2 separate regions of the Homo sapiens genome follow, and region 1 is linked to region 2. Evidence: fine-mapped expression QTL. Tissue or cell type: lymphoblastoid cells. Region 2 holds a variant in brackets; the other region holds the start of a gene. All regions are shown on one strand. Distances are between the middles of the regions.

What was found. PIP is the estimated chance that this variant, and not a neighbour inherited with it, causes the effect.
Region 1: SMC6 starts here. The variant in region 2 is fine-mapped to the expression of SMC6 in lymphoblastoid cells (GTEx, PIP 0.99).

Annotation. Positions count from the first base shown.
Region 1 is chr2:17,749,516-17,757,741 of GRCh38, reverse strand. SMC6 (structural maintenance of chromosomes 6) reads left to right here and starts at 3,932. Exons shown (of 28, transcript NM_001142286.2): 1 at 3,932-4,116; 2 at 4,678-4,764. It overlaps GEN1 (GEN1 Holliday junction 5' flap endonuclease), which reads right to left and starts at 3,604. Exons shown (of 14, transcript NM_001130009.3): 1 at 3,397-3,604. RefSeq lists silencers at 3,817-3,956, 4,097-4,456.
Region 2 is chr2:17,800,948-17,809,173 of GRCh38, reverse strand. No RefSeq gene overlaps it. Among named protein-coding and RNA genes, the nearest start is that of MSGN1, 11 kb to the left of the region's middle. The variant A/T (reference allele first, on the strand shown) is at 4,599.

The DNA.
Region 1 (8,226 bases), 51 kb after region 2:
AAAAGTACTGTTCTGCAAATTTACAAGTACTTGAATATTAAATACTACTTCAGTATAGCTTTTTGAGGGAAGAGAAATTCACATTTTCTGGTTTCCTTCAGATTGCCTAGAACTAGTCCTGTGGAGTTGGCCAGGGCACATATTTTCTCTGGCAACTTCCGGTTCTAAGGTTCAACATTCCTACCCTGTTTCTAATGATTCCTTTCGTAGGTTGACTACACATACACAAATGAATAGTAGTGAAGATTGCCACCTAGTGCAGTGATGTTTATGATGGCACACATAAACACACATTTATATATAGGACTGTGATGTTAACTGTATTCCTTCTGAGGGTTATGGTAAAAAAAAAAATAAAACAGCAATAAGGTAGACTCTTGATTTTATAAACTGCAGTCCTCTAAGTATTTCAAGTATATTAAGATCATTGTGTAAAGCTGTTAATTAAATATATTATTAACAGGGGGCAGCCATGCCTAAAAAAAAAAAAAAAAAGTCCAGCACTGATTCGATTATTGGAAACCCCTAAGCAAGATAAAGAGGGCTTTTAACCCCATAAATAATATCTTTAATATCACATGATTACTACAGTTAGAATTTAGTTTTTATTATTTCATTTCTTTTGTCGGAAACAAACCTGGTTTAAAGAATGATTAACCATGGTTAGTTCTGAAAGAGGAAAATTATGTGAAATGTACATTTTATTAGAAAGAACATCATAATATTTTAAGAACGCAATTAACTCCAAATCTCTGTTTCCATCATCAATTGTTTTCCATTCCTTATCACATGTTCTTTGCACCAGCTGTTCCGCGGAAGTGATATTAAGAAGCAATGGTTAAGACTGTAAAAGCATAAAACATTCCAAAAAAGGACAGAATGCAATAGCTTCTAAGATATTAAAGTACAACTACACTGAAAGATAGAACAGATGGTTCTTGCATGAGGTCATAATCAATGTGATGAGGTTATTTGAAAATGGCTCAGCATTAAGTAAAATTTAAAAATACTACACTAGCCGGGCATGGTAGCTCATGCCTATAATCCTGGCTCTTTGGGAGGTCGAGGCAGGCGGATCACCTGAGGCCAGGAGTTTGAGAACAGCCTGGCAAAATGGTGAGACCCCATTTCTATAAAAATAAATAATAAAAATTAAAAATACTACACCAAGAACTATGTATAATTTCATCTTGCTTTTTAGTTTTTTTTACTATGGTAAAATTTTAAATTTTTTTGGTGTGGGATTTGGTGAGTTCCCACTCAAATCTTTTATAATGAATAAGTATATTGATGTCAATCTGTTCATACAATCAACATATATATATCAAAAGAAGTCTAACATCTTCATAATTTTTTAAGAATTAGCTGTCACACAAGTCTACTTACATGAATCAATGATGTAAGAACAACACATAGCAAATAACTTTATAAACCTATTAATGGCTTAAATTGATTTAGCTTACTTATTTGAATCAACAAAGTCAGAACACATAGCAAACCACTTCATAAGCAATGGACTTCAGATAGGAAGCCTAGGATTTGGGTTTTGAATATACCACTGATTAGGTGTATGACCTTGGGAAGACATTTAACCGTTCTACAAAATGACAGGTATTAAACCAGATGCATTACAAGATTCTAATATCTGTAATCTAGTATTTAATATTTGAATTGCATGACCAACTGGTAGCATGGAATAAAAAAAAATCACTCTATTTCAGAAAGTATTGCTTGGTATAATAGAAAGAACATAAATTTCCATCTTAAAGGACTTAAGAATCCACTTCCAGTTAAAACAAAAACAAGTCCTTTGATGTAACCATATGGTGCCCATAAATCAATTTAAGTTCCTAAAACTTCCTTAAAAGCTAATAAGCTTTTATTGGTTAATTATAAAACTGAATGAGGTGAGAAAAACACAGAACCTTGTTAATTTCACTAATGAATCAAATTTAAAGAACATAAAGAGGTCAGGGGCTTAACTGATGCAAAAATACACACTTTATTAAAGCAAGTTTTGCAATTTAGTTCAGCTTTAAGAAAAACATTAGAAAATTTACTTCGGAAAAGCAGAAAATGCTTAAATTTCCCAATTTCCATTTAGATGAGTATATATTCATATAAAGACTGGTAAATGGTGAAAACTATTTCAATGCAAGATTATATTTTAAGGGATTTACCACATAATCTCAGTAACTAATGCTGTTCTTTAAAATTATTTTTTCAATTTTATTTTCATATGAATTTAGCCTAAACGTTGAGGCATACTTCACGTTTATCAATAAATACTTATTAAATGTCTACTATTTAACAGGAAAGCTTTATAGGTGCTGGAGATACAATAATGGAAGATCAAGCCCTGCATTTAAAGACCTTAGTAGGGTAAGTGAGACTGCAGATAAAAAGGGCTTAAGAGGTAAGAAAGCAAGCTATAGTTGTATTTAGGAAAAAAGGTCCCCCACTTAGGAATCAAGGAACGGTTCCTGAAGCAAGTGACATGTAAGTAGGGACCTCCCAACCGTGTTTCCCATTGGTTACAACAAGGCCAGATGTTTTGGTCTATTTTGACTATGTCATATTTTTCGTTGATCCATGGCAAGGGCCACAGTAGGAATATAATATATATGTGATTACTTTTAGAAATAAAAAGTGACTTTGATGTAAAGAATTCCATTACCGGAGGCCAGAATTTCAACATCAATTTATTTGGAGGTGGAGTGAGGTGGCAGTCAATGCATTATTTTCCCCACACAGAAGAGAAGATTTTGGAGTATGAAAAGTAGGTTACTTGTTAGGTCAGCATATTCATGGGAAGGGTTGTGTAAAGACTGAAGCGGGAGTGTGGGGTTGAGAAGGGCGCTGAAACCTAAGCCAAGGAAGTTAAGACTTCATTACTTCTGACGTTTATTTAGGGGGTTTACACTCTAGGTTACCGTGGGGGAAAGACTGATTGTAAATAACTACAATACCTTAAAGTAATTACTATAACAGAACTATATCCGAAATACAAGGTTAACACGGAAAAGGGAACACCCAACTGTGCCTATGGGGACCAGGGAGGGCTCTCCCGGGATGGCTTTGAGCGAGGCGTGGGAATTATCCCCATCGCATGCCCGGGGGAAGCACAGCGGGACCCAGCAGCTTCGGCCAAGCGCAAGCGGCCGGAGAACGCGCAGCTTTCCCGAGGCGGGGTGACGCAGGGCCCTCGCGAGTGGAAAACAGGGGCCAAGTCGCGGCCTGGCGGCTCGGTTCGGACTTCCTACTTTATTCAAAGGGAGTCATTGAAGGCGTTTTCGGAGGAGCAGCGAACAAAGAGCTCGTCCGTAAGCCAGATGGTCAAAGGAATCAGTGGGAGGACCCGGGCGGCGCCGTCTCTCCACGTCCCGCGGGACTTACCCGGACAACCCTTCCTCCTTGGCTCTGGAAGAAGCCCCTTCGTCATTTACCAGTTTGGCCTGAATCCTAACTACTGTGCCTCCAAATTTCTGAATTTTCTCAAAAGGAAAAAAAAAAAGGAAAGTCCTCTTTCTTTACCCAAGCAAAGACTAGCTCCCCGGGCTCAACCGCCAGGCCCAGGAGCACCAGGAAGCGTTTCGAATCCAGCGCCGGGCCCGCGCGGCCCCGCCTCTTCCGGGAAGTGACTGACCCCTTTCCCCCAATGGGGCCCGCTCGGCTTTCCCTTGCCGGCTCCCAGCCGGCCTAGCGGACGCATGCGTAGACCAGCTGCCGGGGGCGCTCAATTATCTTTCCCTTTTACTTAGGCAAATCACTCACCTCCCCCGAGTCCGGTCACTGCGGAGCCGCCCGTGCCTACCAGCTTCCCCCACCCGCTAAGGGGCACTTCCGGCCTCTCAGACTCCGGCGGCGCGAAACCCCGCAACTGCGCAGGCGCGGGCGGAGCCCGAAGGGAGGGAGGGCGGGGCGCAGGCGCGGTTAGTACCGCGGTGGGCGCCGGGGCTCCCGGGAATCTACCTTCTCCTGCGGCCGGCACGCGGTTCCCAGGGGGCCAGCGGCGGTCAGCCGAGGTCGAGACGCCCGCAGGGTGGCCTTAGCGGCCGGTCGTACCACGGCAGCCCCGCCGATCAGGTTCCTTTGGGAGACTTCGACTTGTTGGCGGTAGGGTGAAGGCGCGCGCTGTCGCTTTCCCTTGCTCCGGGGTTCATCCTCCGCCCGCTGCCCCCTTGGCTGGCGACCCCCAGCCACCCGGGAGAGGCAGGGTCAGCTGAGCTGCGGCGGTGTTCATGGTCGTCCTTGCGGGCCCGGGCGGGAGATGTCCGTTCCTCGGGCGGGTCGGGCGGCCGGCGGCACCTTCGCGCGCTCTCCGAGGCGGCACCGGTCTCCTGAGCCGCGGGAAACCTGGCGTCTGCTCCGGGCCGTCCCCTCCCAGGCGGCCGTCCCCTCCCAGGCGGCCGTCCCCAGACTCTCCCGGGCTGTGGCGAATAACTGTAAAGCGGGGAGAGGTCTGGGGAAAGCTGGGGTAGGGAGTGGCTCTTAGCATGAGTCTGATGATATCTCGCAGGCGGCAACTGGTGTGTTTAAAGGGTGTATGCAAAGATCACTGAAATCGGATTTGTCATTAAAGCCCAGTTTTACGAAAATGCAAATTGTATTACCTAGAAAAATTAACATGTGTTCAAAGGTTTACTGATGGCATTTCTCTGCCCTCATTTCTTACAGAAATGAACCGGAGAAGAATCCCAATTGGGAATTGCGGAAAACAGGACTCTAGGGTAGAGAAAGGTTGTAGAACCAATAGGGTTTGAGGTAATACTGTGAAAATTCTTAGAGCAATCATTTGGTGTTTGAGCCCTCAAGACAGAAGTTTTGTGAGCGCTTATTACTCTGCATATGTCACGAGTAGTAGATTAAAAGCCAGTGTTTTAAAGGCAAACTTCTCAGTAATATATATTCAAAGGAAAAAAGAAAAACCCAAATCTCCTGACTTTTATATGGTTGCAGTGTGATCTTTTAACATGTACAATAGTATATACAGTGGCATGCAGTTTGTTCCATGGGTGTGTGGGTAGAGAGGGAACATATTAGAACTTCTATTTAGATTTATTTCATTTGATTTCTACGTGAAACATAGGGTATTAATTTTATGTTGGAACATGTATTTCAAATTTCTTTTGCTTAATGGGTGCAAGTACAAAACGTTTGGAGGCCACTAGTATATTGCCTAAAAGCGTGTATTTATATCACAAAAAGCCAGAATTGTGTGACTCTGAGCAGGTTGGTACCACCTCTTTAAGTTTCAGTTCTTCTTATGCAAGTTGGAAGAAATAATACAGTTATCAGTGCATCCTCTGTATCCGTGGACTCAATCAAGGGACTGAAAATATTTCAGAGGAAAAAAAGTGGATGGTTGCACAGACTTTTTTTTGTTCTTGTCATTATTCCCTAAACAGTACAGTATAACAACTATTCACATAGCATTTGCATTGTGTTAGGTTATATAAGTAATCTAGAGATAACTTTTAAGTATGTGGGGAGGTTATATGCAAATATGACACCATTTCATATAAGGGACTTGAGCATCTGTGGATTTTGGTATCTGAGTGAGAGAGAGGGGCTGTCATTTTGGAACCAATTCTTAGGGATTGACTGTACCTAGCTGACAGGATTCTTAAATATGTGGACACAGAGAGGAAGAGAAAGTTATGTAGTTATATATCGACATCTGTCTGCAATCCGTATAAACCAGTTAGTATTGAGCCTGGCAAAAAGTACACAAGTCATGTTAAAGGTATTACAGTGAAAAACAAGTTTTATTCCCCAAAGGTTTATTTTACTGAGTGTATTTTACTGAATCTGTAGAATTTTATGTAAAACCTACCTAAATCTTGACTGTCATTTTTAGACCAAAGTTAGGAAAAATAATTAAAGCTGTACTTGGCTTACTTTTAGGAATTAGTAAGTAACTCAAAATTTTACCGTGATAGCTTGCATTATATTTAAGACACAATTAAATGCCATAGTTCTTTATACACAACGATAAGTCCAGCTGACTGAGGGTCAAGCGTAGTTGCTTAGGTTAATGTTAGCATTTTTGATTCACTATTTAAACAAGTTAACATCTTTTCTCTCTGAGCATGCTTTTCTTGGTCACCAAATTCAAACTACTTCCAGTAGCTTCCTTAGCTCCACCCACAAATCTTTCTCCATTGCAGAGTATCCTTTACTACTGACTGGCCTCTATCTCAAAATACCTTAGGAGCACTTGAAACTCAGTGTTTTCTTTCTTTCTTTTTTTTCCTCTTTTTTTTTTTTTTTTGTTTGAGACAGAGTTTTACTCTTGTCGCCGAGGTTGGAGTGCAGTGGTGCAATCCTGCCTCCCGGGTTCAAGCGATTCTCCTGCCTCAGCCTCCGGAGTAGCTGGGATTACAGGCATGCACCACCACACTTGGCTAATTTTGTATTTTTAGTAGAGATGGGGTTTCACCACGTTGGGCTGGCTGGTCTTGAGCGCCTTACCTCAAGTGATCCATCCATCTCGGCCTCCCAAAGTGCTGGGATGACAAGGCGTGAGCTACTGAGCCCAGCCCAAACTCAGTGTTTTCAAATAAAATAAATTTCATTCTCCCTACTTGCCAAACCTGTTCCATGAACTTATAATGGCATTTAGTATTAAGTGTGAAGATGAAACACAAAATGAAGTTTTATAAAGCACACCCAAAGTTTTGATTGACTTTAATAGTAACATTAGAGAATCTTTTTTTTTTTTTTTTTTTTTTTTGAGACAGCTGTTCACTCTTGTTGTCCAGGCTGGAGGGCAGTGACATGATTTCGGCTCACTGCAACCTCTGCCTCTCAGGTTCAAGTGATTCTCCTGCCTCAACCTCCTGAGTAGCTGGGATTACAGGCATGCGCCACCAAGCCCAGCTAATTTTTTTTTGTATTTTTAGTAGAGATGGGGTTTCACCATGTTGGCCAGGCTGGTCTCGAACTCCTGACCTCAGGTGATCCGCCTGCCTTGGCCTTCCAAAGTACTGAGATTGCAGGCATGAGCCACCCGCCCAGCCAATAATAGAATCTTTTTTTTAAGTTTAATGAAGGATAGACGAGATGAAGGACAGATTAATAGCCAATTTCACTCTCTATGAATAATTAACTGTCAAACTTCAGTTTATGCCAGTAGGAACCTGGGCGTTAAAGAGGTTTAACTGGGTTTTGACAAACCTGGATTTGGATCTGAGCTCTGCTATGTTAGAGCTATAGAAGCCTTTGTATGTTAGAACTAAGTTGTAGCTACATAAATTCAAGTCATTTACTTGTGCCTCAGTCTCTCCTTTTGTAAAAATAAGGGCAATATTTATCTCATAAAGATGTTGGGGATCAAAGGAAATAGAAAGTGTTCATCTCAAAAGCTAAGTATGTAGTTATTCAGCAGATGTTAATTCTACTCACCCATTTGTACTCACCAATTCTACTAATTCAGTCTTTTAAATCTCTTGTTTTATCTCTTCCCTTTGTCCCTGATATTACCACTGCTTTTGTTTAGCAACTCATCTCTTCTGCTACTATTCTTACTTTCTGTTTCATCTATCTTCTATATTGAGCCACAGGATGTTTTCAGTACAGAAATCTAAGTGTTCAGATTTTATTAACTGAAATGCTGTGCTTTATACTTCCCGGTTTTGCTGATCCTGAAATTTTAGATGGGTGGACTTAATGAATAAGTCTCATATAATTTCGTGATATATTCCAAGCAGTGTACTTAATTAAGCACATTCAAAATGAAGTTGTTTACCATAGAATAAATGTCTGTTGTGATAGGCAGAGTAGAATTGAGGATGTGGTAAACACAGGCCAGGGCAGATTCAGAAGTAGTAGTAATTTGCCTTTTTAAAAAAATGATAACACTTTTTTATTAAATTCTAATTCTGTTATGTGTGTCACTACTCTTAGTTCCTAATTTGGTATTAATAGGAAATATGAATTATTATATACTTAATAAAATTTAGAATTCTGTTAAAATGCATGATCTCTATCAAATTTCCTATGCATCTACATGCAATAATGAACTCTTGGTTATTAATTTTTTTTTTCTTTTTGAGACGGAGTATCGCTCTGTCACCCAGGCTGGAGTGCAGTGGCACAGTCTCGGCTCACTGCAACCTCCGCCTCCTGGGTTTAAGCCATTCTTCTGCCTCAGCCTCCTGAGTAGCTGGGACTATAGGCGCGCGCCACCACGCCTGACTAATTTTTGTATTTTTAGTAGAGACG
Region 2 (8,226 bases):
AGTGGAAGGCCACAAAAGTAAATCTGGAAGGCTTTCTGAAAGACATGACTCCTACAGGCTTGTTTGTTTGTTTGTTTGTTTTGAGACAGAGTCTCGTTCTGTCACCCAGGCTAGAGTGCAGTGCAGTGGCATGCAGTGGCGTGATCACGAGTCACTGCAGCCTCAACCTCCTGGGCTCAAGTGATTTTCCCACCTCAGCCTCCTTATAGCTGGGACTACAGGTGCACACCACCATGCCTGGCTAACTTTTGTATTTTTTGTAGGGATGGAGTTTTGCCATGTTGCCCAGGCTGATCTTGAACTCCTTGGCTCAAGCAATTCTCTTGCCTCAGCCTCCCAAAGTGTTGGTATTACAGGTTGTTATAGACCTGTTTTTAAATTAACACTCCTATTTGTTCTTAAAGATGCTCCTTAAAAAGCAGGGCTTTTTTTTTTTCTAGGTGAAAGGTGGAGAGAACATTCTAGGCATTACTTGAAGGCTTGATAGAGCATGCACGATTTGTGCAAGAAATTGAGAGCTGTTCCATGTTCCACAAGGTCAAGTGAAGGCAAAGAGCAGACATTGGAGGTAAAGCTGAAAAGCAGAGCCTCGTCTGCAATGATAAGACACTTGGACTTTATCTTGGAGATGACAAGGAGCTTCTGGTGGGAGTTCGCAAGGGTGAGATTTGGTCAGCAGTGCACTGGAGCCTCACTCTGCTTGTTTGTGGGGAAGGTGTTTGAGTGTTCTATTGGTTCTCCAGGGTTCACAGGGAAACAGAACCAATAGGATGGATGGATGGATGGATGGATGGATGGATGGATGGATGGATGAATAGAGGTGAAGTCCCACAGTCTGCTGTCTGCAAGCTGTATACCCAGGAAAGTCTGTGGTATTGTTCAAAGGCCTGAGAGCCAGAGAGGCAACAGATGGTGTAGATTCCAGTCAAGATCTGAAGGCCGGAGAACTAGGAGCACTGAAAACCACTGAGGACAGGAGATTGATGTCCCAGCTTAAGGAGTCAGGCAGAGAGACCACTCAACTTTCCTCAGTCTTCTTGTTCTTTTCAAGCCCTGAGGGGATGATGCCCACCCACAGTATCTACTTTACACAGTCTACCAGTTCACATGCTAATCTCTCCTGAAAATACCCTTGCAAACACACCTGGAAATAATGTAGAACCAGCTACTTGGGCATCCTGTGGCCCAGGCAAGTTGGCACATAAAATTAATCATCACCCGTGGAGCACGACTAGAGGCAGAGTGCACCAGTAATATTCCAGGTGCTTAGCACAGATGAACCCACATTCATCCTCACAACAACCCTAAGGGGTAGGTGCTATTATCATCACCAATCCTGTTTTACTGATAAGAAATTGAGGCACAGAGGAGTTAAGTAACTTGCCCAAGGCCCCAGGATGAGAGCCTAGGCAGGCTGACTGGAGCCTAGGCTTTTACCCACCAGTTGGAGGCATCTGCACGATGGGCCCTGCAAAGCTGTTGAAGCTGGAACTCAGGCTTGACCTGAGACTTGGTAAATCCTAAAAGATTGATTGATTGATTCCTTGGCCCCATTCAGTCATGTATCCAGTGTGTACAGAGCACCTGAGATTAGCCAGAGTCCTGGGTCCTATAGGTACTAAAAAGATTAAGTAGGTTTAGACTTCTATCATCATTCCTAAATTAGATGGTTGGTTGGACATGACAGGCGTCCACATAACTACTTATTGCCCTGGTTAGCGAACAGGCCTGACTCTTATAGTTTTGAAGGAGTGCCGTGTGTGTATTTGTGTTTGTGTGTGCTCGTGTGTGTTGGGGGAAGGTGTTTGAGTGTTCTATTGGTTCTCCAGTGAAGCTGTATGTATGAAGCTGTTTCTGAGAAATAGTGTAATCTTTAGAGGCACCGCCTTCCTTGGCCATCCCCACAGTTATCTCAGCTATGATAGCAATAATAATAATAAATGTCTCTACTACTAAGTGCTACTAAGTGCTCCATTTAAATCTTATAAAAATATTATTTCTTTTCCTATCTTACTTTTTTTTTCCTTTTCTTTATTCATTTTTTTTTCTTTTTGAGACAAGGTCTGGTTCTATTGCCCAGGTTGGAGTGCAGTGGCACGATCTCGGCTCACTGCAACCTCCACCTCCTGGGGTCAAGCCATCCTCCCACCTCAACCTCCCAAGTAGCTGAAACTACAGGCATGTGACCCCATGCCCAGCTAATTTTTTTTCTTTTTCTTTTTTTTTTTTTTTTGTAGAGATGAGGTTTCACCATGTTGCCCAGGCTGGTCTCAAACTGATGAGCTCAAGTGATCCACCCACCTCAGCCTCCCAAAGTGTCGGGATTACAGGTGTGAACCACCATACCCAGCCTTCTGTTCCCACCTTAAATAAGAAAAAACTGAGGCTTATAGAAGTTAAAAAAAAAAAGTTACCCCAAGTGACCAGATTTGTAAGTGGAAGAGCACAATTTAGACCTAGGCAGTCTGACCCCAGGATCACAAGACTTCAGCGAGTGATGTTATGTTCCGAGAGAGGAGATAGGTGAACGAGGATTTTGGAAGGACCCCTCATTGTGAGGTTTGTAGTTGCTTTACATCTTTGGGTTTGCAGTTCCAGAATAGAAGGCAGCTGTCATTCCCTACCACTTCTAGTGCTTTCCCTGGCCTTAGGCCACATTATTATTATTATCAAGCAGCAGGTAAAGGTGATATTTAATTATATTTTCCTAGAATTAAACACTTTATATAGAACATTCTTTTAAAAATAAAATCCTTTTGTATATTAATATTGATAACAGTAATACACTTTCCATTTTTTGAGTACTTACAGCACGTACTCTATGCTAGGAGCTAAAAATAAGGGCCTTGCATACATTCACTCATGTCATCCTCCATACAGTCCAGTTAGGTAGGCATTATCATCATCTTACAAGGGAAGAAGCAAAGCTCAGATGCTAAGGACCTTGCCCAAGGTCATGGGACACAGCTTCTTTCCAAACCATAGCCACACCCATCGGCTCTGCAGCTGCCACACCGAGAGCCAGCTGCAGTACTCTCGCCCATCCCTGCCCTCACTGCTTGTCTCTGAGACACTCAGACCCTGCTGGCTCTGTGCACCCTGATTTCAGTAGCTGTATTTTGCTGTGGGGGCTCCTGCCCACCCTGAGCTCTACACACTCCCCTGACTTTTGTACACTCCATAGTACCTTCTTATAGCCACAGCCATACAGAACTCCACTGGCCAGCCCAGCCCTGGCCTTCCAGTCATGGGACAGAGCCTGTGTGTGTACAGTTAGACATAAGTTGGGCCAGGAGTGGTGGCTCATGCCTGTGATCCCAGCACTTTGGGAGGCCGAGATGCGTGGACCACTGAAGGTCAGGAGCTCAAGACCAGCCTGGCCAAGATGGTGAAATTCCGTCTCTACTAAAAATGCAAAAATTAGCCAGGGTGTAGTGGCCAGCGCCTGTAATCTCAGCTACTTGGGAGGCCGAGGCAGGAGAATCTCTTTAACATGGGAGGCGGAGGATGCAGTAAGCCGAGATCATGCCACTGCACTCTGCCTGGGCAACAGAGTGAGACTCTGTCTCAAAAAAAAAAAAAAAAAAAAAAAAGTTAAAAACCTGGGCCCTTTCACACTGCCACACAGTCTTGGCACTCAGCTAACATTCACCAGAAAATAGATAATTCTTGTGGGGCAAAGGGAATATAGGTGTGTGTGTATGTGTGAAGAAAACAACTAAGTGAAATGTGACATTTTCCTGTGTCCTTGAGTTAGCAAAGAGAACTGAAAGTGGTGCTCTCCTGCATGGATAGCGGCCTGGAGCTGCTGTGCTGTCAAGCCTGTGACAGTTTCAGCAAAGCCTGTGTGAGGCTCTTGGGACTGTGACTTTCATGTGACTGCCATTATGCTAAGGAAATAATAAAAGTAGTTGGGCCTCGTGATTTGACTTTATGGCTCATTGTAAAGCCAAAGAGTAACATTTTGGTTTTGATCCATTTAATAATAAATTGTAGAGCATCATGCAATGTGTGAACAGATGATTTTCACAGGCTGGGTATTTAACCCTTGGGCAGGACAAAGCAACAGACAAATAAACGGCAACAAAATAATTAAACTTAATTCACAGGAGAAGTGAGAAACAGAAGAGTTCTAAACTGTAGAAATCCTTTAGAACAGAGTCTTGTGGACTTCTCCAGCCTGACCAGAAGTTTTGTTTTTCTTCATCCCCTTCACTAGGTGGTCATGAGGAAAAGCAGCATTCTCCCTCCCAAACACCTGGGATGCTCCCTTTCTCAAGCACTTCCACTGTCTGGGCTCAGGACCCTGTCTCATCAGCTCGCTCCACAGTCAAATGCCTTGTGAATTTTCTTTGCCAAATGAATGTGCACAGAAGCCAAGGCAGCGTGGTTTACTCTAAAAAGAATCCATTTGGGGGCAGCCATGTCCCTGCGGGGTCCCTGGCACCTGAATATAAACCTCTTTCTCTTTTGAAAATATTACTAAATATGTTAATTTGGGAACAAAATGCAGTCACCATGTCCACCCACAATGGGCAGTTATGCAGAAGATAGGAGGGTGGCAGAGAGGGGACTGCAAAGTGTGGGTGAAGAAACAT[A/T]AGAGAAGAGGAAGAGGGTAATAAAAAGAGGAACAGAAGCTCATTCTCCCTGGAGAGCATCAGGGCAGGATGCTGTGATTATTCTTATTGCAAGGAAATATGAGCAGCTTGTCTTGATTCGGCAATCTCAGAATGTCAACATTTATCCCCAAATAGCCAAGTTTTCTGTCACCAACTCGGGAGGGGTAGCAGCCTTGAGTGCTTCTCCATGGATTCTTCAGCAACTGGCCAGCAAGATTTAAATGAAATCTCATGTGTTACATTTACACCTACTCCCCCTTTTAAGTTGGATTCTTTATTACCACTGGTATTTGGGGTGGCATTTTAATACCCATGTCAAAAAGTTGAAAGCAATTTGCACGGAGTTTGTTCTCCAAGGATTCTCCCCTGTTCTTACCAGCCTGAGAAGAAGAAAAGTGCAACATTACTTCTTCATTTTTCTTCAGTGATGACAAAAGTCCTGTTATTAAAGTGAATACTAAAAATGGTTGTCTGCATAATGAACCTGCTTATTTTCACAAACTTTAGCCTTTGCTTTTGAGTGTTTTCAATTCAGATTTCCATACTTGCCAGTTAACTGACACCTAAAAAGCAGATATAAGGCAAAGAAGAAATTGGGGGAAATATTTTTCAGTTTTTTGATACGGGATAGTCAAACATGACAGGTAAAACATTATTGCTATGAAGAACTCACACAGATAAGAAAAATACAAGCTTGCCACTGGGAAAATGAACAAGGGCATAAATAAACAGCTCACAGAAAAAGAAATACAAGTGGCTCATAAACATAGAAGAAAATGTTCACCTCGGTAGTAATCAAAGACATGTAAATGGAAATGACAAGGCAAGGCCGTTTTTCACCTCCCAAATTGGCAAAGTTGGCAAGAGGATGAGGAAGTGGTCCTTCCCACACATTGCTTGTGGGAGAGTCAGTTGGTTCAATTTTTAAAGTAACTTAAAGTCCAAAATTCATCTTAGATTCAAAAGTACTTTTGACACAAGGACTTTATACAACTAAACAAAGTTACAGTCAAATATTTAGGATAAAAAATATTCGCCATAGTCTTACAGTAAAAAATTAGAAACAAATATCTAATAGCAAAGAGGTAATTGCATACATTATTTCCTATTCATATGATGAAATATTATATAGTTGATAAAGAAATCATTATGAATAACATTTAATATACAAAGCTTAATTTAATATTAAGGCTTTTAAGTAGGACATATAAAATTAATACTTTGATCCAATTGAAAATTCTTTCTCATAGAAATATGACTAAGTGTTAAGAGTGGTTACTTCTGGTAACAGGAATTGAGAGTATTTTTTTCTTCATTCATCTTACTTTCTTCTAGTGGTTAGGAGCCAGAGTTCCTAGGCTCCAACCTTGACTTCTCTGCTTACTTAACTAAGTGATTATAAGCAGGTAACTTCATTTCTTAATGTCTCAGTTCCTCTACTTGAAATAAAGGGATAATAACAACAGCTACTTTACAAGATTGTTGTAAAGATCAATATACATAAAGAAATGTCATACTACTGCCCTCAGACATTGTCAGTACTCAATTGTTGCTATCGTCTTGACAGTTGTCAGTATTTTCTAAATTAAAAAAGATTACTGATTTAAAAATTAGAATTTCAAAACCAGTGAATGGTCAAGGCTGGCCTGATTAGGTCCATGTGCAAATGAAAAAGATTCAGGAATCACAGGCGCTCTCAAGTTGAATCAAAGCATATGGGTAGTACACTTATTTAAATATTTAAAAAAAAAAAAAAAGCAGGCAGGAAGGAAGGGAGGGAGGGAGGAGCTTCAGGTGGAAGTGCTCCTGTAAAGATGACTGGGACATTGACAGGTAGGATATAAGGTTTGCTGAGACCTTGTTGGAGTTCCGTGTTTCATTTGCAAAGAGTAGAAAGAAGTGGAGAAGAGACTCAGAGGAGGACAACAAGAAAGATGAAAGAGAGGAAATGTTGTTTCATGAAAAAAAGTTCCAGTCTTTTCCATCCCAGAAGTGTAGCTACTGAGCAGTTGAAGAACTATGCTCAGCCCCTTGTGGACTGAGTGGTTACCCTCCATCTCCAGCAGGTATGAAGCCCACGGATAAGCCTCTCGCTGTAGGGAATCATAGAGTTCACATTCACAGCATTCCCACACTTCCCTGCTATCAAGAATCACCTGGGGAGAGGGAAAGCATATTTTTAAAAAGACGGTTCCGCCGGGTGCAGTGGCTCATGGCTGTAATTCCAGCACTTTGGGAGGCCGAGGCGTGTGGATCACGAGGTCAGGAGTTCAAGACCACCCTAGGCAAGATGGTGAAATCCCGTTTCTACTAAAAATAAAAAAAATAGCCAGGTGGGGTGGCGGGTGCCTATAATCCCAGCTACTCGGGAGGCTGAGGCAGAGAATTGCTTGAACCCAAGAGGCGGAGGTTGCAGTGAGCCGAGATATTGCCACTGCACTCCAGCCTGGGAGACAGAGCGAGACTCCATCTCAAAAAAAAAAAAAAGAGGATTCCTAGGCTCCTCTCCTGGAGATTCTGACTTGGTAAAGTCAGAGCTGGGGCCTGGTAGTGTAACCACCCAAGGGTTCACCTTGCCCACTGCCTAGACAGAGCCCATTTATCAAGACAGGGGAATTGCAATAGAGAAAGAGTAATGCACACAGAACCAGCAGTGCGGGAGACCAGAGTTTTATTATCACTCAAATCAGTCTCCTCAGAATTCAGGGATCAGAGTTGTTACGGATAATTTGGTGGGTAGGGGCCAGTGAGTCAGGAGTACTGATCGGTTGGGTGGGAGATGAAGTCAGAGAGAGTCGAAGCTGTCCTCTTGCGCTCAGTCAGTTCCTGGGTAGGGGCCACAGATCAGATGAGCCAGTTTATCAATCTGGGTGGTGCCAGCTGATCCATCAAGTGCAGGGTCTACAAAATATCTCAAGTACTAATTTTAGGTCTTACAATAGCGATATTATTCTCGGGACCAATTTGGGGAGGGTCGGAAACTTGTAGCCTCCAGCTGCATGACTCCTAAACCATAATTTCGAATCTTTTGGCTAACTTTTTGGTCCTACAAAGGCAGTCTAGTCCCCAGTCAAGAAAGGGATTTGTTTCAGGAAAGGAGTAGTATTGTCTTTGTTTCAAAGTTAAACTATAAACTAAGTTCCTCCCAAAGTTAGTTTGGCCTATGTCCAGGAATGAACAAGGACAGCTTGGAGATTAGAAGCAAGATGGAGTTGAGTTGGTTAGGTCAGATCTCTTTCACTGTAATAATTTTGCAACAGCAGTTTTAATAGTCTCTAGTGAAGAACTGATGACTTGGACAGAACAAAGGCCTCCCAGGATACAAGAGCACTGAGCTGGGTGGCAGGATGCCAACAGCACCCCCAGGGCTGGCCACTTTGTCTAGATTGTTAAACAGAGATAAAACCACAGATACAGGGAGCAGGACCAGGTGATTGTTACACTTTTATAACTCCTTGACTTTTCATACTACTAAAATCTCTCCTGATAAATTCTCTGCCTGCCATTTAAGACTATTTCTGGTCTGGCCTATCCCAACTCTTCCAACTTTATGTCTTCCTGGTCCCCAGGCCCATTCTCTGCCTGATTCCAGGATAATGCTACACTG